Regions from separate parts of the Homo sapiens genome. Here all the other regions are linked to region 1. The links come from fine-mapping of genetic effects on gene expression. A gene starts in region 1. Each other region holds a variant in brackets. All regions are shown on one strand. Distances are between the middles of the regions.

Evidence for each region.
Region 2: its variant is fine-mapped to the expression of EVI5L in whole blood (TOPMed, PIP above 0.99). The same link has a PIP of 0.9 or more in blood mononuclear cells.
Region 3: its variant is fine-mapped to the expression of EVI5L in whole blood (TOPMed, PIP above 0.99).
Region 4: its variant is fine-mapped to the expression of EVI5L in blood mononuclear cells (TOPMed, PIP 0.98).

The regions. Positions count from the first base shown.
Region 1 is chr19:7,827,652-7,833,667 of GRCh38, forward strand. It overlaps EVI5L (ecotropic viral integration site 5 like), which reads left to right and starts at 2,567. Exons shown (of 20, transcript NM_001159944.3): 1 at 2,567-2,730. RefSeq lists a silencer at 2,424-2,663.
Region 2 is chr19:7,797,446-7,803,461 of GRCh38, forward strand. All of the region lies in intron 1 of LOC124904628 (a long non-coding RNA gene), which reads left to right. Among named protein-coding and RNA genes, the nearest start is that of EVI5L, 30 kb to the right of the region's middle. The variant C/G (reference allele first, on the strand shown) is at 2,317.
Region 3 is chr19:7,858,825-7,864,840 of GRCh38, forward strand. EVI5L (ecotropic viral integration site 5 like) reads left to right here. Exons shown (of 20, transcript NM_001159944.3): 14 at 1,737-1,865; 15 at 3,054-3,194; 16 at 3,298-3,453; 17 at 3,564-3,710; 18 at 4,148-4,243; 19 at 4,361-4,456; 20 at 4,600-6,016. The coding sequence ends at 4,878. Among named protein-coding and RNA genes, the nearest start is that of PRR36, 13 kb to the right of the region's middle. RefSeq lists enhancers at 2,561-3,200, 3,201-3,838, 4,933-5,641 and a silencer at 3,661-3,930. The variant GC/G (reference allele first, on the strand shown) is at 3,227.
Region 4 is chr19:7,848,275-7,854,290 of GRCh38, forward strand. It overlaps EVI5L (ecotropic viral integration site 5 like), which reads left to right. Exons shown (of 20, transcript NM_001159944.3): 4 at 647-871; 5 at 982-1,056; 6 at 1,723-1,848; 7 at 3,160-3,303; 8 at 3,407-3,496; 9 at 4,812-4,909; 10 at 4,999-5,059. Among named protein-coding and RNA genes, the nearest start is that of EVI5L, 21 kb to the left of the region's middle. The variant C/T (reference allele first, on the strand shown) is at 3,533.

The DNA of each region.
Region 1 (6,016 bases):
TATTTTTTTCCCACTGCGCTTATAAAAATGGAATCAAAGTGTCCTGGGAATGAAACCATTTTTTGTGTGAAAATGGTAGTGCAAAGAGGGGGTCAAATGTTCTGTTCATTTGCCTTAGGCTTGGTTTTATCCCCCAGACACCAGCTGTTGAGTGTCTCCTAGGCATGGTCCCAGAAAAATAACTGGTCACGACCTCTTCCTAGGGAGGTTCTGGACCCCACCTTGGCCTGAACCTCCGCAGACCACTCTGTCTCCCACATTCCTGCTAGTATTCTAGGACCAGAGACCCCAGGACTTTTCTTTTCTTTCCCTTTCTTTCTTTTCTTTCCTTCCTTCCTTTCTTGCTTGCAGAGTCTCGCGCCGTCACCCAGGCAGGAGCGCAGTGGTATGATCTCTGCTTACCGCAACCTCTGCCTCCCGGGTTCAAGTGATTCCCGAGCTTCAGCCTCCTGAGTAGCTGGGATTATAGGCGTGCGCCACCACACTTGGCTAATTTTTGTTTTTGTTTTTGTTTTTTTTGAGACGGAGCCTCGCTCTGTCGCCAGGCTGGAGTAGAGTGGAGCGATCTCAGCTCATTTTAACCTCCGCCTCCAGGTTCAAGCGATTCTGCTGCCTCAGCCTCCCAAGTAGCTGGGACTACAGGCACCCGCCTCCATGCCCAGCTAATTTTTGTATTTTTAGTAGAGACGGGGTTTCACCATGTTGGCCAGGATGGTCTGGATCTCTTGACCTCGTGATCTGCCCGCCTCGGCCTCCCAAAGTGCTGGGATTACAGGCGTGAGCCACCGCGCCCGGACCCTGGGGAGGTTTATTAACAGTTCCAGAACGTTGGCAGATGCAAAATAGACAGGAAGAGGGAGGGAGAGGCAGAGAGAGCTGGACAGAGGCCGGGACCATACGTGGATGTCAGTCACTGCTTGCAAGGCCACACAGAGTCTCCTACTACAGAGAAGGTTGAGCTCTCAGACCTTAGGAAGTCCTGACGTGCCCCTCCCTGGGTCCAGCCTTCCCTTCCCCATTCTGAACTTAGGACATCTAGCTGGGCGAGGTGGCTCATGCCTGTAATCCCAGCACTTTGGGAGGCTGAAGTGGGAGAACCTGGCACCAGGAGTTTCCGACTAGCCTGAGCAACATACCAAGACCCCAGCCTCTACCAAAAAAATTAGCCGGGCATGGTGTGCACGCACCTGTAGTCCCAGCTACTGGGGAGGTTGAGGCGGGAGGATCATTGGAGTCCAAGAGTTCGAGGCTGCATTGAGCTATGTTCGCATCACTGCACTGCAAACTGGGACACAGAGCGAGACCCTGTCTCTGAAAAATAAATAAATAAAAACACACTTATGACGTCACCCTCTCTGCTATGACAAGGTCCTTCCCTGCCCCACCCCCTCCAGGGCCCATCCCTACATCTTGGGGAGGAAATAAGTCCATTTTGGTCAGTCTTGCCCGCTGTCAGTAACTGTCCCTACGAATTCCTCTCTAGCTTGAAGGATTCTCCACCTCTCCCTTCTCTGTTAAAAGAGTCACGGGCCCATTTTCATTCATTCATTCATCAAATGTTTATAAGCAGTTTCCATGCTGGGGACCTGGAAGAGACCCGACCTAGGCCCTGCATCCCGACTCCCCGAGGATCTATCAGCCTGGGAGGATGGGGAATGGGAGGGCCTATCCCTCCCCACGATCACGGCGCGAACCGAGCTTTGATGGAGAAACACGCGGCTCTGTGAGCTTTAGAGAACACATTTAACCTGGCCTGGAGTAAGACAGGGGACGGGCCTGAATCTTTTATGGGACCCGCCCCCAATATCAACCGCCCCGTCCCCAGCACAGAACTGGGCTCCTAGACGACACGGTGCCATCACGTCCCCAGTGAGTCTTCAGGATTTCTGGCCACGCCCCTTCTCAGACCCAACCCCCGAGCCCCTCCCTTGCTTGACCCCGCCCCATCTCTGGCCTAGGCCACGCCCTCCTCTTAGCCCCACCCCCATTTCATTCAACCCAGGCCTCAAGCCCCACCGCCCAGGACGCCAATGCTCCCACCAATCTCACATACCCATTGGTCAGAGAGTGTCACTTTCCCGCCCTCCTTCAGTAGCATTGGTTCCCTAGGTGTCAATCTTCTTTATGGCGCCCCCAGCAGTTGCCAGGGCCCAGGTTTGAGGGGCAGATAATAATGGACGTCTCGGGGCGTCTCGTTATTGGGCAGAAAGCCCGGCTCTGGGCGGGGCTTAGTGCCAAACGCTTGGCCGCGTCTGCCTGGTGTTCCTCAGGGCCGCAGCCTTTCCTCACGGACACACCCCCACTTTCCTTGCTATTGGTCTTATCAGGTGTTGATCAATAGGATTCCTCATTCCGATACGCAAAACTACCTGTCCTTCACCGCTTCCCTCATTTCAATTCGCTCTCTCCTCAGAGGCGGCAACCTTCTGAACGTAGCCAGGGCCCGCCTCACGGAATGGCCACGGAATGGTCAGACACCCCGTCACTCCTGGCTGGTGGGCGGGGCCAGGGCGCCTGGGGGCGGCGAATTGGCGGATGGGGCCTCGGGGGCGGGGCAGCGGCTCCTGTCAGCGGGTGAAATGGCAGCGGCGGAGCCGGCGGCGGCCGCGGTCCCGGGGGGCGGCTGAGGGGGCCGGGCCGGGGCTGCGGGGCGAACGGCGCGGCTAGGATCCGGCGGCTCAGCCCGGGGCGGCGAGGCTCGGCACGGAGATGGCGGCGCGCTCGGCGCAGGTAGGGCGGCGCGGGCCGGGCCTCCCGGGCGCCTGCTCAGGCCGGCGGCTCCGTGATGCGGCCCGCGGGGAACCGGCAGGACCGCAACTCGGGCCGTCGTGCCCCGGAACCCGCGCTGGGAGCCTCGGCATCCCCAGCCCGGGACCTTCGGAGGACCCTGGCCCCTGCCCACCCTCGTTGCCGATCCCTCCGGACCCCTCCCCAGGAGCTCCTGCAGGATCCCCCTCCCCCACTCCGTCCCCTCCCCATGAGGACCCCGCAGGCCCAGGACCCCCGTCCACCCTTTGCAGTGACCCTCAGGACTCCTCTCCGGGAACCCCCTCAGGGCTCCCCATCCCCCCACTCCGCCGATCAGCCCCTCAGAAGCGCCCCCCAAGCCCAAGAACCCCCGTCCACCTTCTGCCCTGATCTCTCAGGACCCCTCCCTTCTGGACAACACTTGCCACCCCCTCCCCGCACCCCCTCACTTCACGTCCTCCTATCTTGGGCCCAGAACTGCCCCCACCTCTCCCCAAGGAGACCAGCCTCAGGGCCTACCCGCCCCCCATGCTGACCCCACAGGACCCCTCTCTGGCCTCTGTAAGTCGGATTTCCTACCCCTGCCCACAGCCCTCAGCTCAGCCTGCTAGCCCATCTCCCACCCCAGCTGCCACATGCCCAAGGGCACCCCTAAACACCACTCCCCGGCGTCCACCCAGCACACTGTGGTAGCTCCACTGATCCTGCCCCATCTGGATCCTGGCTCCTGGATCCTGAAAAATCCACCCATGCTCAAGACCTCCCGTTGGATATTCTGAACCACCCCACTCCCCATCCAGAGCCACCCATCTTTCTGAAAACCCCAAACACACACACACACACACACACACACACACACACACACACACACACAGTCACTTAGATCCCCCAGCACACACAGAAAAACTTAAGAGCTCCAACATAGACCCCAGGCATATCTGCCCCTGCCCCCACCCACTCAACACTTCTGCACCCCTCCTCAGATCCCACCTGTCCAGGCCCTCCCAGAGTCCCCGACAGCTCCCCCAGCTCAAGCAGAGATTCCAGAGACCATGAGGTGCCTGCCGCACCCCAGGAAGCCAACTTGCCCCTCCACCAAACCAGCGCCCACACTGGAGCCTTGGAGGGTGACAGGGCCCCAGAATCCCCCAGCACCTACCCCTGTGGGAACCTGCCCCAGGCCTCTGCCAAGTTATCCATCCTTCCCTGCTGTGCCCTTTCAAAGGGAAGGACGCTCACTTTCTCTCCTACACTAGTGTCCCGAAGGAACCACTGCCCGCCCCCTGATTTATGCCACCCCCTGGCGGGAAGGGAGAGGATTCACAGCTCCTGGCTTCCGTCCTGAAGTCTGCCCCCAGCCTCCTGACCCCATCACGCCTACTGGCCTCAAATGCCAGAGCCAGCAGGGCGGTCCAGGTTGCTCCTCAGAGCTGGCCCCTGACAGCCCGAGAGTTCTTTCACCCACAACTAGTGTGTTTGGCCAAAACAAAACAGCTTCCTTCTATCTTGGCATTTGAGACCTGGGTCGGGGCCTGCCAGAAGCAGGCAGCTCTTTGTTAAGGAATATTTTCAGAAGGGAAAAATGTGCTGAAGAGGCTCGAGTGGAACATGAATGAGTTGTCTGCTTCGTTTTATTCCCCCTCGGCCGGGATGTGATTGAGCTAGAGGACCCGTGTCCCTGTGTCTTTCCGTCTTTTGTGGCTCTTCCCATCCATCCCGCCGCCCTCCCCACTCCCAGCTCTGGCCTCAGGGTCCAACCTGTAGGTTCCTCTGGGCTTCTGTGGTCAGCGGAGGGTGGTTTGGAAGGGATCGCAGGTGGCTTGGCCCTGGCACAGGGATGAGACAAGACAGGAGAGGAGATGCTGGCGCGACACTGTGGCCAGGACTGCAGGGGGCGAGGAGCCGGGCCGGTCCAGTCCCGCGCAGCCTGGGCACTGTGCGTCTGGGGTCCTTCTGACAACATAACTGTGCTCAGAAACCCTGAGATAAAAGGCCCAGGCTTCCTTGTGGATATTCACTAGCGGATTGTGGACCATCCAGGAAAAAGCTCATTGCGGCTCAGTACCTCAACTTCCCCATCGGAAACTGGGGTGCGGGGAGAGCGGCTAAATTTTTAGAACAGAACTTGGAACTGCAGGAAGGCTAGGGTGTGGCCCTGTGTGTTCCCCCAGTGCCGTGTGGAAGGGGACAGCAAGGTCTCGGAGGGGAGTCCTATGGGCTCCTGTGAATCACTGGCCACCCAGGTCCCTGCGAGGGTCTTAGTTGACACTTCATTGAAAAGTGGCCATCTTCCTAGGGCTGAGCTGTATTGCAGGGAGCCAGCTCGAATCAGAGCTGGAAGAATGGAGATGAGAGATGGTCTGCTGCAGGACTTGTGGTTATACACAGGGTCTTCCCAGGAGGACCACGGGGAACAGGGTGGGCATGAGGGGCTGTCGGATAGCCATGCTGAGGCCCCACATAGATCTCTGATGCCCCACATAGACCTCTGACACCGGGTAGGAAGAGGTTTGTTCTGTCCACTTGCTGAAGGAAGGCGTGGAGGAAAAGACTCCTGAAGGTCACGTGGTATCTCTCACGCACAGGAAACTAAACTCTACAGCCTCCCCAGGGTGGAATTTTGTGCAGAGACAGTGGGGTATGAAGGCTTCCCAGGATGACTGTGAACTCTATAGGAAACCACGAGGAGGACTTGTCAGTGATACGAACGCAGTTTTACCCGAGACTGGGCTCGTGGAGCTGCATCTTTGTTTGAGCTTTGAGGGGGCAGACGGATGAGGAGGAATGTATATTTCAATTTCCTCTTGCAGAATAGAGATGCCAGTTGTTACAGGGAAGCCCTGGGCCTGGAGTCAGATGTTGGGGTGTGAAGGAATGTAAGATGTGTACAATGTGGTCCCTGCTCTGCGTCTAAAGTCCTCTCACTGGCATGCGGCGGCCCCCGCCATGTGCTCAGCACCATGCCAAGCACCATTGACATATTATCTCATTTAATCCTCCCCAAAACTCGGAGGAACCAGGATTGCAGCACGCGCCCTTGCCATCCTGGCCTGAGGCCTGCTGCGGGGAGCATGAGACAGAATTATGTACAGCAGGCTGCAATGGGAGCCCGGAAAAAAAGCCTGATGCATCCCTGGGGTGTTGGGGAAGGCACAGCAGGGATGACGTATGGACCAGGTCACAGGCAGGCGTGGCAGGGAAGGGTGTTCCAGGCAGCAGAAGTGCTTGGACACACGCCCAAGAGGCAGGAGCAAGCGTGGTGCGCTCA
Region 2 (6,016 bases), 30 kb before region 1:
ACATATCTTAGTTTCCAAAATTTAGGGATGTGTTTAACATCTGTTTGCCACAACTGATTAGGTTCCAATCCTCTAGGGTTAACACCTGTTTAAGGAGGAAACGTGCCTGTCAGCTGGTAATCTGGGCATTGTAGGATAATTTGTTTAGCCAGTCTCTGGGCTAGTTGAAATTGTTTAGATAAGTTTCTCCAATTTTGGTGGAAAAATTGATGTGATTGGGTGGCTTGGTCAAGCAGTGATGTCATAACCTGAAGGTCTGCTTGATCTTGCCACAAGCCAATGGGCCAGGCAGAGATCTGTGGGCTCAAACGTGTGTAATAAAAATAGGATGTGTACCTTGGTCCGGCAATTGCTGAAGTTGAAGAAAAAGAGGCACACAGAGTGGGCTCCAGAGCGAACTTAAGGCTGTAAAAGTAATTTAATAAATAAACAGAACAGCCTCAGCTCTCCGAATGCTAGTAAATTTAGATCCAGTGATTGGATTACGTGGTCTCCACCAGACTGCCGCTTTTCCATCTTTACCAGACCCATTAGTAAAACCAGTCACAGCTCCCGCCGGGCGCGGTGGCTCATGCAGGTAATCCCAGCACTTTGGGAGGCCGAGGCGGGCGGATAACGAGGTCAGGAGATTGAGAACACGGTGAAACCCCGTCTCTACTAAAAATACAAAAAAATTAGCAGGGCGTGGTGGCAGGCGCCTGTAGTCCCAGCTACTGGGGAGGCTGAGGCAGGAGAATGGCGTGAACCGGGAAGGCGGAGCTTGCAGTGAGCCGAGATAGCGCCACTGCACTCCAGTCTGGGCGACACAGCGAGACTCCGTTTCAAAAAACAAAAACAAAACAAAAAAACCAGTCACAGCTCCTTCCAAAGGGGCATCACGAGTAATTTTCGGAGGAACCCATGTAGTTAATTTTAAGAACTGGAAAGTTTTATTTTTAGGATAATGATTATCAATACATCCAACAAATTCTGCTAAATAAACTTGCCATGTAACTGAATTAATAAATGCCTGTTTAACCTGATTTTTATTTATAGGAACTATAATCTTATTAGGTTCAGTGCCACAAAGTTTAACAACTCGCATACGAGCCTGTCCAATTAAAATTGCCATCTGATCTAAATATACTGTAAGTGTTTTTATGGTATTACGTGGCAAAAAGGACTATTCAACTAAATCATTATTTTGAACAATAATCCCCGTTGGGGAGTGTGAAGTAGGGAAAACAATGAATTGTAAAGGCAAGTCTGGGTCAATCCTACTGACCTGGGCTTGCGGAATTTTTTCTTCAATTACTCTTAACTCTTTCATGGCCTCGGGTGTTAGTTCTCTTTTACTGTGTAAACTGGAGTCTCCCCTCAGTATTGAGAAGAGATTAGACATAGCATAAGTAGGAATTCCTAAGGTGGGCCGAATCCAATTAATATCGCCTAACAATTTTTGAAAATCATTTAAGGTTTATTTGGTTTTTGTTTTTGTTTTTGAGACGGAATCTTGCTCTGTCCCCCAGGCTGGAGGGCAGTGGCTTGATCTCGGCTCACTGCAAGCTCCGCCTCCCGGGTTCACGCCATTCTCCCGCCTCAGCCTCCCGAGTAGCTGGGACTACAGGCGCGCAGCCACCACGCCCGGCTAATTTTTTGTATTTTTAGTAGAGGCGGGGTTTCACTGTGTTAGCCAGGATGGTCTCGATCTCCTGACCTTGTGATCCGCCCGCCTCAGCCTCCCAAAGTGCTGGGATTACAGGCGTGAGCCACTGCCCCCCCGCCCATTTAAGGTTTTTAAAGAAGCTTTTCTAATTTGAACCTTTTGAGGCTTAATGCTCTATCCTGTACTTGCATTCCCAAATACTGAAAAGGAGTGGTTGTTTGAATTTTGTCAGATGCTTTAAGCAATCCAGCGTTTGTAATTGCCTTTTGCAAAGATGAATAACATTGAATAAGTTGGCCTCTATTTTTTGCTGCACACATCTGGAAATTGATCTCTAACAGGCTGGATAGTTCTGCCTACAAAAGTCTGACAAATTGTGAGACTGTTTAACATACCCCGAGGTAAAACCTTCCAATGATATCTGGCTGCAGGTTCTTTATTATTAACTGCAGGGATGGTAAAGCCAAATTTTTCGAAATCTGCCTCTGCTAAAGGAATTGTAAAAAAAAAAAAAAAAAAAAAAAAAAAAAAAAAGCAATCTTTTAAATCTATAATAACAAGCGGCCAGTCTTTAGGGATTATAATGGGGGATGGGAGCCCTGGTTGTAAAGCTCCCATCGGTTGAATTACAGCGTTGACCGCTAGTAAATCGGTCGGCATGCGCCATCTGC[C/G]GGACTTTTTCTTAATTACAAATACTGGGGAATTCCAAGGAGAAAAAGTGGGTGTGAAACATGTCCTTTTTCTAGTAATTCTTTAACTATTTCATAAAGCGCCCCCAATTTTTCCTTAGGGATCGGCCACTGTTCGACCCAGACAGGGCGCTGGGTCATCCATTTTTAAGGGAAATTGCTCCTTCCCCGTAATGAACGGCAGGGCGAGCCTGAATTTTAATTAACTGGTGGCTGAGCCTGAATCATCCCTTTACCGTAATTAACGGCAGGTTTTGCAACAATGGGCGCGGCGAACCGCGTCTCAGGCTTCCATGCCCGCAATTCACAAGGCTTAGGCGCGGGTGGCCATTCCGGAGCTTCCCCTGAGGGTGCGGTAGGTTGGACGGTCTCTTTCATATGTGTTTGGTTAGCATATATAACCTCCTGATTCTCCGCCTTTTTTAAACTGGAGCTAGATGGTGCACTCTCCTGACCGTCAAACTCGTCTCCTTCATTTCCAAATGCTGGTTCCTCCTCAGTCTGCAAAGGCTCACGTGCTGTTTTCACTGCCGCCCACACAGACCAAGCGGAGAAAGGAATTTCTTGACCCTCTTTTTGTGCCTGTTTGAAGTCAGCCCTTATTTTTTCCCAGTCTTTCAAATCCATGGAGCTGTGTTCCGGGAACCAAGGAGAATATTGTTCTATTAGCTGAAACAGGGACAGAAGATTTTGGGTGCTCACGTTTAACCACAGTGGCACAATAACTGCCGCACCAAACTCAAATAATTATTATGTCTACTCTCAGCCTGACCCACAATTTCCTGTTGTTACCCTGGAATTCTCCGAGCGCCCCGCTTACCTGCAGAGCTTAAAAGTCTTTTCGTTGGCCGGCGCGGTGGCTCACGCCTGTAATCCCAGCACTTTGGGAGGCCGAGGCGGGCGGATCACGAGGTCAGGAGATCAAGACCATCATAGCTAACATGGTGAAACCCCGTCTCTACTAAAAATACAAAAAGTTAGCCGGGCGTGGAGGCGGGCGCCTGTAGTCCCAGCTACTTGGGAGCTGAGGCAGGAGAAGGGCGTGAACCCGGGAGGCGGAGCTTGCAGTGAGCCGACATCGAGCCACTGCACTCCAGCCTGGGTGACAGAGCGAGACTCCGTCTCAAAAATAAATAAATAAATAAATAAGTAAAAATTAAAAAAAAACTTTTCGTCCTTGGGAGTTCTCCATCTGTCGGTCCTTCATTTTCGACGCTCCTGCATTCCTTCACCCGGTTGTTTTGGAGATACCACGTTGGGCGCCAGATGGTGGGGTCCAGCCTCAACACTACCCGTGGGTACCTGAAGTCCGGTGGCGACAAAGGAATGAGAAAAGACAAGTTAAGATTTTAAAGCAGGCCCAGGGGGCCAGTTGCTAGAGTGAAGGCTGCAAAACGCCCAGAGTTCTGGTTGCCTGACGATTTATTGAGCACAATCTTTTGATCTAAGAAGCAGCTGGGATGAAACGGTGAAGGAGCGGGAGCGTACGTCATTGGAAAGATGTAGAGCAGTGGCGGTTATATGAATTTCCTTTAAGCTAAAAGCATATGTCTAACTGCTAAGACAGTCTTTAACTTATCGGGCTGCAGCTGGTGGGGGCCGGTTTTACAAGGAGCTAGGATGTCTGGTCACGTTCCAACACTTCAAGGGAGTGTGTCAGCCCAGAGCATTCTGTGTAAAGCCGCAGAGCAGGTCATGCCCTCTGGCCTGGGAACTTAATGGCTTGCGGAGATGATTCTCCTAAGGGCCCCCTACAGTTTTCCATAGGTGTCCTACACAGGGGTGACTGACTAAACTGGCACCCCATAAACCTTTCCACCAGCACTTTTGTTTCAGGCTGCTGGCTCTGGTGAGCTCTTCTTTTTTGTTTTGTTTTATTTATTTATTTATTTATTTATTTACTTTATTTTTTTTGAGACACAGTCTCGCTGTCTCCCAGGCTGGAGTGCAGTGGCGTGATCTCAGCTCACTGCAAGCTCCACCTCCCAGGTTCAGGCCATTCTCCTGCCTCAGCCTCCGGAACAGCTGGGACTACAGGTGCCCACCAGCACGCCCAGCTAATTTTTTGTATTTTTAGTAGAGACGGGGTTTCACCATGTTAGCCAGGATGGTCTTGATCTCCTGACCTCGTGATCCACCCGCCTCAGCCTCCCAAAGTGCTGGGATTACAGGTGTGAGCCACCGCGCCTGGCCTCATTTATTTGTTTTTTAGATGGAGTCTCACTCTGTCACCCAGGCTGGAGTGCAGTGGCACAATCTCAGCTCACTGCATCCTCCACCTCCCAGGTTCAAGGGATTCTCGTGCCTCAGCCTCCCTGGTAGCTGGGATTATAGGTGTGTGTCACCATGCCCGGCTAGTTTTGTATTTAAAAATAGGCAGGATTAAAAAGTAGGTGGGGTTGATCCAACCATTATCTACATGATTGAACCCCACCTTCAGCCCCTTCCCCTTCCTGGAGGTCAGGTGGCTAAAAATCCCAACCTTGGTGGTTGGTGTTTCTGGCATGACCAGCCCCCATCCTGAGTCACCTCCTTGGTATAAGCTCAGTTATGGTCCAGGGCCCCCATGAATAATAAAGACGCTTCTTTTTTTTTTTTATTTCCATAGGTTTGGGGGAACATGTATTTGGTTACATGATTAAATTCCTTAGTGGTGATTCATGAGAGTTTGGTGCACCCATCTCCCAAGCAGTATACACTGCACCTAATTTGTAGTATTCTATCCGTCAGCTTTCCACCCTTTCCCCTTGAGCCCCCAAAATCCACTGTGTCATTCTTATGCCTTTGCATCCTCATAGCTTAGCTCCCACTTATGAGTGAGAGTATACAATGTTTGGTTTTCCATTCCTGAGTTCCTTCACTTAGAATAATGGTCTCCAGTCCCATCCAGGTTGCTGCAAATCCCATTAATTCATTCCGTTTCATGGCTGAGTAGTATTCCATTTTATATGTATGCCACAGTTTCTTCACCCATTCGTTGACTGATGGAAATTTAGGTTTGTTCCACGTTTTTGCACTTGCGAATTGTGCTGCTATAAACATGTGTGAACAAGTATCTTTTTTGTATCATGACTTCTTTTCCTCTGGATAGATACCCAGTAGTGGGATTGCTGGCTCAAATGGTAGTTTTACTTTTAGTTCTTTAAGGAATCTCCACGCTGTTTTCCATAGTGGTTGTACTAGTTTACATTCCCACCAGCAGTGTAAAAGTGTTCCCTGTTTGCCACATCCACACCAACATCTATTATTTTTTGAGTCTTTGATTATGGCCATTCTTGCAGGAGTAAGGTGGTATCACATTGTGGTTTTGATTTGCATCTCCCTGATCATTAGTGATGTTGAGCATTTTTCCATATGTTTGTTGGCCATTAAGACACTTCTATTACTTGGAAAATTCCAAGAGTTTAGACGCCCCCTGCCAGGAACCAGAGGTAGTGACTAGACAGATTATTTAGCACACAATATCTTTCTATCTTAAAATCGCAATCATATCTGCAAAGTCTCTTTTTGCCATATAAGGTGACATTCATAGGATCCAGGGATTAGGACTTGGATATCTTTTTTTTTTTTTTTTTTGAGAAGGAGTTTCACTCTTGTTGCCCAGGTTGGAGTGCAATGGCATGATCTCAACTCACTGCAACCTCCACCTCCCAGGTTCAAGTGATTCTCCTGTCTCAGCCTC
Region 3 (6,016 bases), 31 kb after region 1:
ACTTTGGGTCCCATGATGGGCAGGCCCATGAGTGGGGCCCCACCCCAAGATTTTCTTCTCCTGAAAGCTTTTAGAACTTAACTGCGACCTGGTGCAGTGGCTCACGCCTTAATCTCAGCACTTTGGGAGGCTGAGGCAGGTGGATCACCTGAGGTTAGGAGTTCGAGACCAGCCTGGCCAACATGATGAAGCCCCATCTCTAATAAAAATACAAAAATAAGCTGGGTATGGTGGTGCGCACCTGTAGTCCCAGCTACTCAGGAGGCTGAGGCAGGAGAATCACTTGAACCCGGGAGGTGGAGGTTGCAGTGAGCCAAGATGGCACCACCGCACTCCAGCCTGGGTGACAGAGCAAGACTCCATCTCAAAAAAAAAAAAAAAAAAAACTTAACTGCAGCTGCACTCAGCAGTTGGCCTTCCTGATCGCAGGGACCCCCAGTGGCTGCAGTCCTAAGCCCTGCAGGCCACAGGGACACATGCCCTGGAGGGGCCGGGAGCGACGCTGTAGGTCCCGCTGCCATCCTGGCCTGACCCAGCAGGGCCTGGCAGTGGGGTGTAGGTTGGAGAAACCATGGAGTGCTTGAGAAAGAAGAGCCATCCAATACAGAGGTGCCCCCTCCGCCCCCAGGCCCAGAGACTGTGGCTCAAGCCTTGGCCCAGGGATTCTAGCGGATCCACTGCTCCTGGGGAGAAGGAGAGCTTCACTGTTTCTCACTTGTCCCCATGAACCACATCCGTATGATGCTGGCGTTGTGGCCCTCAGAGTCTGTGAGCACTCTTGTCCCACCTTGCTCTGAGGCAGCATGGACATTAGGGAAACTGAGGCTGGGCTCATCCCACCCACTGCATGAGGCCGCCTTTCAGGCTCGTTAGAGAGACTCCACCAGCCACCCCTGAGCTCCAACCTTGGGGGGATGCAGAGATCGGGGAGGCCCAAGGCCACCTCCTCAGGCCCAAAGGGAGGCCACTGCAGGCAAGATGAGGTGGCCCAGAGGAGCCACATGGGGCCTGGAGGCCATCTGGGCCGAGGCAGAGCCACCGTCACACGTGGATCTCAGAGACCCACAGGAAGAGGATGGTGGCTGGGAGGGCTGAGGCAGTCCCCCAGAGAACTGTCCTGCCAGGCCACAAGGTCAGTGAGAGGGAGCCCGGCTCCCACCCCAGGGACCAGGTGTCCTTTTTCAGGTCCAGGTGGCAGTGTCCATCACTCCAGGGGCCCCCACTGGGGAACTTCTGAGAAGCCAGGGCATGGAGCAAGAGGGTGATACCCACAAACTCTTTCCTCATCCTTCCCTGATTTGAAATGGAGGGTGGGATGCAGAGGAGAGAGGTGGAAAGACAGGTGCACAGCCCCAGGCCTCTCCCCCACCCCCTGCCTCGCCCACCATGTGGCTGGAACGGTGACCACCCAGCAAGAACCCATCTCCCACCCTCACCAGTGATCCCGGAAAACCAGTCACTGGGGTCCCGCGGGGCATCCGAAGGCCAAGGCAAGTCACCTTTCAGAATGTCCCCTCTGTGCAGCCTTTCCAGGAAGGAAGCTGGACCGGGCCAGCTGCATGGATGCCAGGACCTCTAGGCCCTGAGCATCAGGGGGTCCAGCCCAGGACACCCCAAGCCTGGGCCCCTCTCCCTGCTGAAGGGCTCTGGGGAGGCGGGGAGAAGCCAGCAGGCATGGAGGCTGCCCATCCCCCAGCCATGGCCTGGGGCCCCACGCAGCTCTCTGCCTCCCCCAGGAGAACCCCCGCCTCACAGAAGACTTCGTGTCCCACCTGGAGACCGAGCTGGAGCAGTCGAGGCTGCGGGAGACGGAGACACTGGGGGCCCTTCGGGAGATGCAGGACAAGGTTCTCGACATGGAAAAGGTGCAATGGGGAGGCAGACGGGCAGGTGTCGGGGGGACCCTGGGGCACAGGAGGGGTCCTGGATAAGCTTTGGGAGTGACCCCAGGTCAGAATCCCCCACCCCCATGCACACACAACCATACATATGCACACACACAGCACAACCCCACGCGGGGCATGCCCACGCTCCTGTATGAGGCAAACTCCAGCAGCGTGGCAGCTTCTATGAGCTTCCCGGATACCTGCATCCCACCTGTGTGTGTTTCCCCCAGTACTGGGTTCCAGGAAGGAAGGGAGGAGAGAGGGGGATGGGGGAGGGGGACAGGAAGGAGAGAAAGGAAGGCCCAGGCCCATTGTGGCTGCCTCCCTACACATTCCCATGCAGACACCATCCCAGGGCTTCTGGGTTCCTCCCCAACTGCTCTCTGACTTGGCATCGACTCCACTCTCCCACGGAGCTCCCAGAGGAAGGAAAGCACCCAGGGACCCATTCACACATTCAGCAGGAGCCATTCCCCACCCCCTCGAGCCTGCACTATTTTGGGAGTCCTCCCAAATGGAGGACTGAGAGGCCATCTGCTTCCAGGCCCTCATCACCAGCCAAGAGCTGGGCTCCGCTCCCGCCTCCCTCCACTTCATAGGGAAGTGTGCCTCCAGGACATGCTGCTAGATCTGTCCCAGCCCTAGACCCAAACACGGGTCAGTGCGGACCTCATCCAGAAAGCTGGATTTGGGTCCTGGAGCACAAATCCTCCATCAATGAGCCCTGGGACACCAGGACAGGGCCAAGGCTGGCACTCAGCCTGTTCCCAGGGAGAGGGACTGCCTGGCCTGGTGTGGCCTGGCCTGGGGGCCAGAGGGCAGACAGGGTGTTTCTGCTGGGGCAGGTCCTCCACCTGATCATGTCCCTGAGGGGATGGATCTCAGACCTCGGGGAGTCAGTGTGTGCAGCGCGGCGTTTATGGGGGTTGCCCTAGGACACCCTGTGAGAGTAGGTGCTGTTACTACACCCATTTTATAGCTGAGGAACTCCAACCGGGTTCCACAGGCGAGTCCGCTCCCCGTGGGCCTTGTCAAGGGGGTCGCCCTCCCCCATCTGAGCCGCCCAAGGCAGAGCTCAGGAGGAAACGTGGCTGGGGGCGTTTGTCCTGCAGGAAGGGCCATGCGGCTGCGCTGCTCCCCCAGGCCCTGACCCCACTCTTCCCGCAGAGGAACAGCTCGCTGCCCGACGAGAACAATGTGGCGCAGCTGCAGGAGGAGCTGAAGGCGCTCAAGGTGCGGGAAGGCCAGGCGGTGGCCTCGACGCGAGAGCTTAAACTGCAGCTGCAGGAGCTCTCGGACACCTGGCAGGTGAGGGCCGGGTGGGCGCCGGCGGGCAGAGC[GC/G]CCCCTAGGGCCATCCCCTCGGGGTTCTTGGGCGGAGGCTGACCGCCGGCTTCTCGGCTTCACCCCCCAGGCCCATCTGGCCCGCGGCGGCCGCTGGAAGGAGTCCCCACGGAAGCTGGTCGTGGGCGAGCTGCAGGACGAGCTGATGAGCGTGCGTCTGCGCGAGGCCCAGGCCCTGGCCGAGGGCCGCGAGCTGCGGCAGCGCGTGGTGGAACTTGAGACGCAGGTGGACTCGGGGGGCCTGCTCGTTGGGGAAGGGGCGTGGTGTCCGTGGCCAGCCCCTGAGTTAGGCCCTGACCGCCGCCGTCCTCCGTCCTCCCTTCCTCCCTATCCCAGGACCACATCCACCGCAACCTTCTGAACCGCGTGGAGGCGGAGCGCGCGGCGCTGCAGGAGAAGCTGCAGTACCTGGCTGCACAGAACAAGGGGCTGCAGACGCAGCTCAGCGAAAGCCGCCGCAAGCAGGCCGAGGCCGAGTGCAAGGTGCAGACCCCCGCGGCCCCGCCCTGCCCGTGGCACCGCCCCCGGACGCGCCCCTACATGAGGCCCCGCCCCCAATCCGCCTCTGCCGGCGTCCTGCCTCCCGATCTGCCCCTGCCCGCGGTCCTCCCGCCCCCGCCCGCGGCCCCGCCTCCTGACCTGCTCCTGCCCGCGACCCCGCCTCCTGATCCGGCCCCGCCTCCTGACCACCCCCCCCCGCGGTCCCGCCTCCTGATCCGCCCCCGCCCGCGGCCACGCCTCCTGACCCGCCCCCGCCCGCACCTCCCTTGCCCGCGGTCCCGCCCCTGCCCGCGGTCCTGCCTCCTGACCCGCCTCCGCCCGCGGCCCCGCCTCCTCATTCGCCCCTGCCCGCGGTCCCGCCCCCTGATGCGCCGCGCCCCCTGACCCGCCCTCCTTTCCCCCCAATCCCCCGACCCCAGAGCAAGGAGGAGGTGATGGCTGTGCGACTGCGGGAGGCGGACAGCATGGCTGCGGTGGCCGAGATGCGGCAGCGCATTGCCGAGCTGGAGATCCAGGTGATCGGCGGGGCCGGGGTCGGGGGGCGGGGGCGGGGGCAGGGCCCGGGGCAGGAGCGGGGCCGGACCCCAGGCCCAGCATGGCACTGGCCCCGCGTGACCTGGCGCACCCCGCAGAGGGAGGAAGGCCGCATCCAGGGCCAGCTGAACCACTCGGACTCATCGCAGTACATCCGCGAGCTCAAGGACCAGATCGAGGAGCTGAAGGCCGAGGTGAGCCGGCGCGGGGATGCCGGGGACAGGCCTGGGTGTCGTCGGCCTGGGACGAGCCGAGCGCAGGTGCCTTGCGGAGGATGCGGCTGGGAGGGCGGGGCAGAAGGCCGGTCCACGCCTGCAGCGCCGGTCCCCCGCCCCAGGTGCGGCTGCTGAAGGGCCCGCCGCCCTTCGAGGACCCGCTGGCTTTCGATGGGCTGAGCCTGGCGCGGCACTTGGACGAGGACTCGCTGCCGTCGTCGGACGAGGAGCTACTTGGCGTAGGCGTGGGCGCTGCCCTGCAGGACGCATTGTACCCTCTGTCCCCGCGCGATGCGCGCTTCTTCCGCCGTCTGGAGCGGCCGGCCAAGGACAGCGAGGGCAGCTCAGACAGCGACGCCGATGAGCTGGCCGCGCCCTACAGCCAGGGTCTGGACAACTGAGGCCATGCCCAGCGCGCCCGGAGTCAGGAGGCCGCAGCCGCGGGGGGCGCCCGGGCAGTCCGCGTTCTGCTCCCCACCTGCCGCACTTGACAAACTACGCGCCCTCTGTGGCTCGGCCACCCCTAAAGCGAGGCCCGGCGAGGCAGCGCAGAGGGTAGGGTCCGACCTGGGCTCCTCAGGGCCCCGGGGCAGGCTCTCTATCCCCAGCAGTGTTTACCCATCTTGGTCTGTACCCCTCCGGGCCCTCTGGCGTTCCAGGGGTGCCTGGAGGGGCTGACTGCTCTCTTAACAGGAGGGCAGAGGGCAGGGGACAGACGACCCAGAGGTCCCAGCACTGAATGAGCAGGCAGCTCCCACCTCCTGGCAGGCTTCCTTCTGGGACAGGGGCGACATTGCTGGGAAGTGCTCAGGAGGTAGCCGAGGCCTGAGGAAGGAGAGCGCCAGCTCTGGGCTGGACATCAGCACCCCACAACACTCCTCGGGATGAAGTGACCCTTGACTAGCCCCTGGCCATCTCTAGGGGAGTCAGGCCGCTGGGGACAGATGGCCAGGCCGGCCTCTCCTGCCTGGCGCAGGCACCGTGGCCCCTGCAGCGGAAACCAAAGTCCCCCTACTATGTGCGGGGCGCCTGGGGACTGAGTGGCTAACGGGAAGCCTCCCTGCTTCTCTGGGGCCAGAGCAGCTTCCAGGAAGTGAAGAGACCCCTCTCCCCAGTGCCCCACATCTTTCTCTGGGAGACACTCGCGCCCCCTATCCTGGCCAGTGATGGAGGGGTATCTCTACAGGGGTCCTCGGTCTCCATCTACTTCCCTTTCTTCATGTGTTTCCAGCCCCACCCTCAGCCAGAGCCAGGCCCCCAGGCAGGAGCTTCCCAGCGAGCGGCCTCCCCTCACTTCCTCCTGGTGGTCCCGTTGTCTCTGCTGAATCAGAGCTGAGAACGGTGCCAAAATCCAACGATGCCCCCCAGGCCCCTTCCTCCCTTCCCCCGGCCCCCCGGGCCTCATGACCCTGGGGGCTGCCCCCCTCGGTGCTCCCGGAGCCTCCAGTAGAGTAGCGTCACAAGCAATCTCCCTGGCGCTTCCTGGGTGGGGACCCCTGCTCCGTCCCCGCTTCCTAGCTGCCCACTTTTCAGTGTTAC
Region 4 (6,016 bases), 21 kb after region 1:
AGACTCCGACTCTATAAAAAGTTTAAAAATTAGCCAGGTAGGCCGGGCGCAGTGGCTCACGCCTGTAATCCCAGTTCGTTGGAAGGTCGAGGCAGGCAGATCACCTAAGGTCAGGAGTTCAAGACCAGCCTGGCCAACATGGCGAAACTCCGACTCTACTAAAAATACAAAAATTAGCTGGGCGTGGTGGCGTGCACCTGTAATCCCAGCTACTTGGGAGGCTGAGGCAGGAGAATCACTTGAACCTGGGAGGCAAGAGGTAGCAGTGAGCCAAGATCACGCCACTGCACTCCGGCGTGGGCAACAGAGTGAGACTCCATCTCAAAAAAAAAAAAAGTTTAAAAATTAGCCAGGCGTGGTGGTGCACAACTGTAGTCCCAGCTACTCAGGAAGCTGAGGCAGGAGGATCGCTTGAGCCCAGGAGTTCAAGGCTGCAGGGAGCTATGATCGCACCACTGCACTCCAGCCTGGGTGACAGAGGGAGACCCTGTCTCTGAAAAAAGGGGGTAAAAAAAGGATTGGGGACCATGAGTTCTGTGCCATGCTTGAGGCCTGGATGAGCCACGCCTGAGGAGCTGGGCTGGGTGGCCACGGGGAGGCTGCGCTGGGACCGAGTCCAGCCCCCGCTTCCCGCTCCCGTGGCCAGGAGCTGATCCGCAAGGGCATCCCCCACCACTTCCGGGCCATCGTGTGGCAGCTTCTGTGCAGCGCCACGGACATGCCCGTCAAGAACCAGTACTCCGAGCTGCTCAAGATGTCCTCGCCGTGCGAGAAGCTGATCCGCAGGGACATCGCCCGCACCTACCCGGAACATGAGTTCTTCAAGGGCCAGGACAGCCTGGGCCAGGAGGTCCTCTTCAACGTCATGAAGGTGAGGCCCAGGGCTCCCCGCTCCCTCGGTCCCAAAGGAAGGAGAAGTTCCCCAGTTCACCGGCTGTGCTGGACGGCGGGACCCTGCTCTCAGGACTTGTTCCCTTCTAGGCATACTCGCTGGTAGACCGGGAGGTGGGCTACTGCCAGGGAAGCGCCTTCATCGTGGGCCTGCTCCTCATGCAGGTAGGTGGCTGGGGGGTGGCTGGGCTCCTGCCAGACAACAGCCCACCCTGGGCTCGGCCCCCAAGAGATGGACAGAAGTGGCGTGTCCTCCACCCAGCGTCTTGCTAGGGGTAGATCCTCCTTCTCCATCCACACCCGTGACCTCTGCCAATCGCCAGGCCAAGGCCCAGTGAGTGGCACCTGTCTGGTTGGGTCCTGTCTGCTGTACCATCCAGGACAGAGACCGGGTTTGGAGGGATAGGCTGTCTCTCTCTGCCACATCTCAGGGTTGGACAGGAACCTCAGGCTGGGGACTTAAGCCATCCAGCGTGGTGTTTATGGGGCTTGGGGGTCTCCTCCAGAGAAATCGGGAGGCTGACAGGGAGAGAGGACGCAGCTGGGACAGGAGGTATCCTAACCAGGGGGATGCTGGCAGTGGCCAGCCCTGGGTTCAGGTCCAGCTCCCCTGTTTCCTGCCGAGTGGCCCTTGGCAGGTGACCTCAGCCTCAGGTCTTCCATCAGTAAAACAGCTTGTGAGGACACAGGGACCAACAGTGTGTCATGAGAGTCTAGGGAGCCAGGTACCGACATGGACATGGGCCCCTGTACCCCAGGGCCCTGATGAGCAGCGAGATGCCCCTCCCCGCTGCGCTGCCCTGAGCCCCCCCACCTGCCCGTCCCCCCTAGATGCCTGAGGAGGAGGCCTTCTGTGTGTTCGTGCGGCTGATGCAGGAGTACCGGCTGCGGGAGCTCTTCAAACCCAGCATGGCCGAGCTCGGGCTCTGCATCTATCAGTTCGAGTACATGCTGCAGGTGAGCAGGGCCGCAGGAGAGCAGGGCTGCAGGAGGGCAGGGCCACAGGTGGGCAGGGCCGCAAGGGAGCAGGATCGCAGAAGGGCAGGGCTGGCACCCTAGACCATACCCGGGCACCTCTTGGACTGAAAATTCCAAGCCTGTGAAATCACACCTGGACGTTCCAACTCCAAAAGGCACTCCTCTTTCCATGCAGCACTGCCCTGAAGGATGCTTGGAGGAACAGGAGAGCCACCACTGAAGGGGGGCTCCCAGGGCTGCTGAGGCAGAGGGGTGGGGCAGGCTCACATCGGACACAGCCACAGCCACCTCCCTGTCTGCTCCAGAGTGTGGTGGAAGGAGGGAGTGTTGTCTGCCTGCCTGATTACTGGAGAGCCGCAGACGTCTGTTTATAAATAGCAGCCCCCGCAGGGCCTGCTCCCGGCTGGCAGGCAGAGCCGCCAAGGCCGTTTGCGAACATACACACACCCGCATGCATACACACACACGCAGACACACACACACACACCGGCCCGCCTCAGCTGCCATGGCAGGTGGGGCTGTGCAGTCATCCCTGGATGTGACAGCCCCACTCCCTGGGCCTGGATCATGGACGGTGCTGTAGCCTTAGGGGGCCTGGTAGTGCCACAAGCAGGAGGCCTGGGCTGCAGAGAAGGCACCACCCCACCTCAGGCTGGGTAGCAGAGCCCTCCCACAGCCAAGCTTGCAAACTCAGGGCGCAGAGAGCCCCTGGCGCTGGGAGGAAGCCCGGGATCCTAACGCCTTCTCCGGCCTCAGTTTCCCCAGCCGTCTGCCACTTTCTGGCTGTCTAGAGTTCAGGCCAATCCAACACAGCTTGCACAAAGCTTTATGCTGGGGTCCAAGGGAGGTACAGTGGCTGGCAGGTCACGTAACAAGGTGGGGGGGGGGCTCCCCCCAGGGCCAGAGGCTGCCACTTGCCCATGCTCCACCTCTGGGTCTCAGGGTGTCTGTGGGGAGTGACCCAACTCCCCCAGCCTCAGACACACCCTCTCAGGCTGTCGTGAGGACCCCATGAGCTGCCACGGGCGCATCACCTACCCAGGGTGGGCCCCCAACACAGGCGGCTACAGATCTTGCCATCCCTGCCTGTCCCCCACCCCGTGCTACTCAAAGCTCGGGGGTGCTTCGGCCTCCCTCAGACAGAGTGCTGAGGGAGCACCAGGAAGGGAGCCTCAGGCTGCCCAGCGCAGGTCCAGGAAGGCTCCCTGGAGGCGGGGACACTGAGGCCCAGCACCCCCCGGTGGGAGGGCGTCCCCCTCACTGTGCCCACCCGGCCTCCCACCCCTGCAGGAGCAGCTCCCAGACCTCAACACCCACTTCCGTTCCCAAAGCTTCCACACATCCATGTATGCCTCGTCCTGGTTCCTCACACTGTTCCTGACCACCTTCCCACTCCCCGTCGCCACCCGGGTCTTTGACATCTTCATGTATGAGGTGAGGACCGATGGTGCCTGGGGAGGGAAGAGAGCCCCTTGGGGGTGGTTGGAACAGGAGCCTCCCTGCCCTCCACCTCCCACTGCCTTTGCCGCCTTTGCAGGGGCTGGAGATCGTGTTCCGAGTGGGCCTCGCCCTGCTGCAGGTGAACCAGGCAGAGCTGATGCAGCTGGACATGGAGGGGATGTCCCAGGTGGGCCGGGAGGGCCAGGGCCGGTGGGGCTGCCCC[C/T]AATCAGGGGCTTCGAGTCACAGGATGCCCTCACAAGTGACAGAGAGGGCCCGGCTTCGAGGGTGGAAGGTGGTGTGCCTGACATCCCTGATCTGTTCCCATCCACTCTGTTCCCCTGAGGTCTCCCTAAGGGACCAGAGGACCCCCTAGGCTCTGCCAGACACAGTCAGGGGCCAGCAGCCTGGCCGCAGGGAGACAGGAGGCCCAGGCTGAGCCCTGGGAGCCCCACTGCCCACCTCCTGCCCCCAACCCCGCAGATGCCCCAAAGCCTGATGGCAGATCATGACTGACTGACCATGAGGGCATCCCCACCCTGCCGCCCAGCCTGGTGAGGGCACAGGAGGGAGTTTGGGGGTCTAGGCAACCTCACGCCTTGCCCCGCCCCAGCCCGGCCTGCCTGGAGGCCCTGCTGCTGGCCAGCCTGCCTCCCACCGCTACTTCTCTGCTGTGCGGGCCCCTGCCCCCTCCCCGCGTCCTCCAGCTGGTGCTTCAGGGAAGAATGCACAAAGGCCACGGTTGTGTCCGTGAACATGGGCAGGCATTGTCCACAGCTACCAGAGGGGGCCAGCTGGGCCGGGTGCAGGAGCTGTGTCCCCCCTGGGCTTACCTTAACCCTTTGCACAGGCCCGAGGCCCCCGGCATACCCATCCTCCTTCCCCCACGAAGGTCCCCTCTGTCAGACCCCCCGACCCTCAGCCTTCACTCCCAGGAGAGCCTCCTTGGCCTGCTTTTCTTTTTTTCTTTTACCTTTTTCTTTTTTTTTTTAAGTCGGAGTTGCTCTGTGGCCCAGGCTGGAGTACAGTGGTGCAGTCCTAGCTCACTGCAGCCTCCACCTCCTGGGCTGAAGCGATCCTCCCGCCTCAGCCTCCTGAGTAGCTGGAACCAGAGGTGTACATCACCATGTCCAGCTAATTTTTTTTTTTCAGAAATGGGGTCTCACTATGTTGCCCACACTGGTCTCAAACTCCTGGGCTCAAGCTATTTATTTCTCCCACCTCAGGCTTTTAAATCATTGGGATTATATGAATGAGCCACCACATCCAGCATCTGCCAGCTTTTCTTCTGGAAACTAAGGCTTTGGCTGCAGGCAGTCCCCCATTCCCTCCCCTCACGCTCAGTCTTTCCATTGCTCCACAAACACTGAGGACACGGCGTTGAGGACATGGCGACACCCCGGGCAGACCCGTTCCTGCCCCCCTCCAGGGCAACAGGGCTCGGGCGGCCCCCGGTGGTCAGGGCCTGCATGTTGGTGACCAGGTGACCGGCTGTGTCCCCACAGTACTTCCAGAGAGTGATCCCCCACCAGTTCGACAGCTGCCCGGACAAGCTGGTCCTCAAAGCCTACCAGGTCAAGTACAACCCCAAGAAGATGAAGAGGTCGGTGCCTGCTGGGCAACCAGGGTACTGGTAAGAAGGGGGGACCCCCGAGGGCATGACAGTAACCACGGGGCCCTCCCGATCTGCAGGCTGGAGAAGGAGTACGCAGCCATGAAGAGCAAGGAGATGGAGGAGCAGATCGAGATCAAAGTGAGTCCAGGGGCCCAGGGGCGGGGACAGGGATGGGAGGCCTTTGGGGGCTGCCCTCCGTACTCTAAAGATCGGCCGCTAGGGGGCGGGCCTTCCCAGCGCACAGGCGGACCCGGCGGTCCTTGGCGGACAGGCCTCCGCCCACCTGCGCCGTCCTTCACCTGTTAGGCCAGCTGTGAGCGCCTCCCCCGCCTGACGCCGCGGTAACCAAGACAGTCAAGGTCCCTGCCCCGCTGGGCCGCCCAGCGTCATGGGGAAGCAATCAATAAACCACTGAACTAGAGTGCGGACTCTAAATGCTCTGGACAAGGATGTGCACGCGGTGGGCAAGGCTGACTTGGGCAGAGGCTCCGGGCCCAGGGTGTCGAGGGCTAAAGGCCCAGGGCAGCAGCGTGCCTTGGGGGCTGGAGGAATTCCAAGAAGGTTGCAGTGGAGGACCCCGCAAGGGGACCGCCCTCTGGGGAAAGATGGAGCACGCAGGGCCCAGACACCAGGGTGTGTAGGGCAGGGTGTGGGCACTCACCCGGGGCCCCTGGTTCCTGGGGCAACTGGCCCACCAGCCCTGCCAGGTCAGGGGGTTTCCTGAGTGTGCAAAGCTTCTCTCTCCTTCCTTGCGCATTCTTCCCTTTACACGTGATTTTAGTTATTTACTCAACAAGCATTTATTGCCGGGCGCGATGGCTCATGCATGTAATCCCAGCACTTTGGGAGGCGGAGGCAGGTGGATCACTTGAGGTCAGGAGTTCGAGACCAGCCTGGCTAATGCAGTGAAACCCCGTCTCTATTAAAAATACAAAAATTAGCTGGGTGTGGTAGCACACACCTGTAATCCTGGCTACTCGGGAGGCTGAGGCAGGAAAATCACTTGAACCCGGGAGGCGGAGGTTACAGTGAGGCAAGATTGTACCGTTGCACTCCAGCCTGGGCGACAGAGTGAGACTGTGTCTCAAAAAAAAA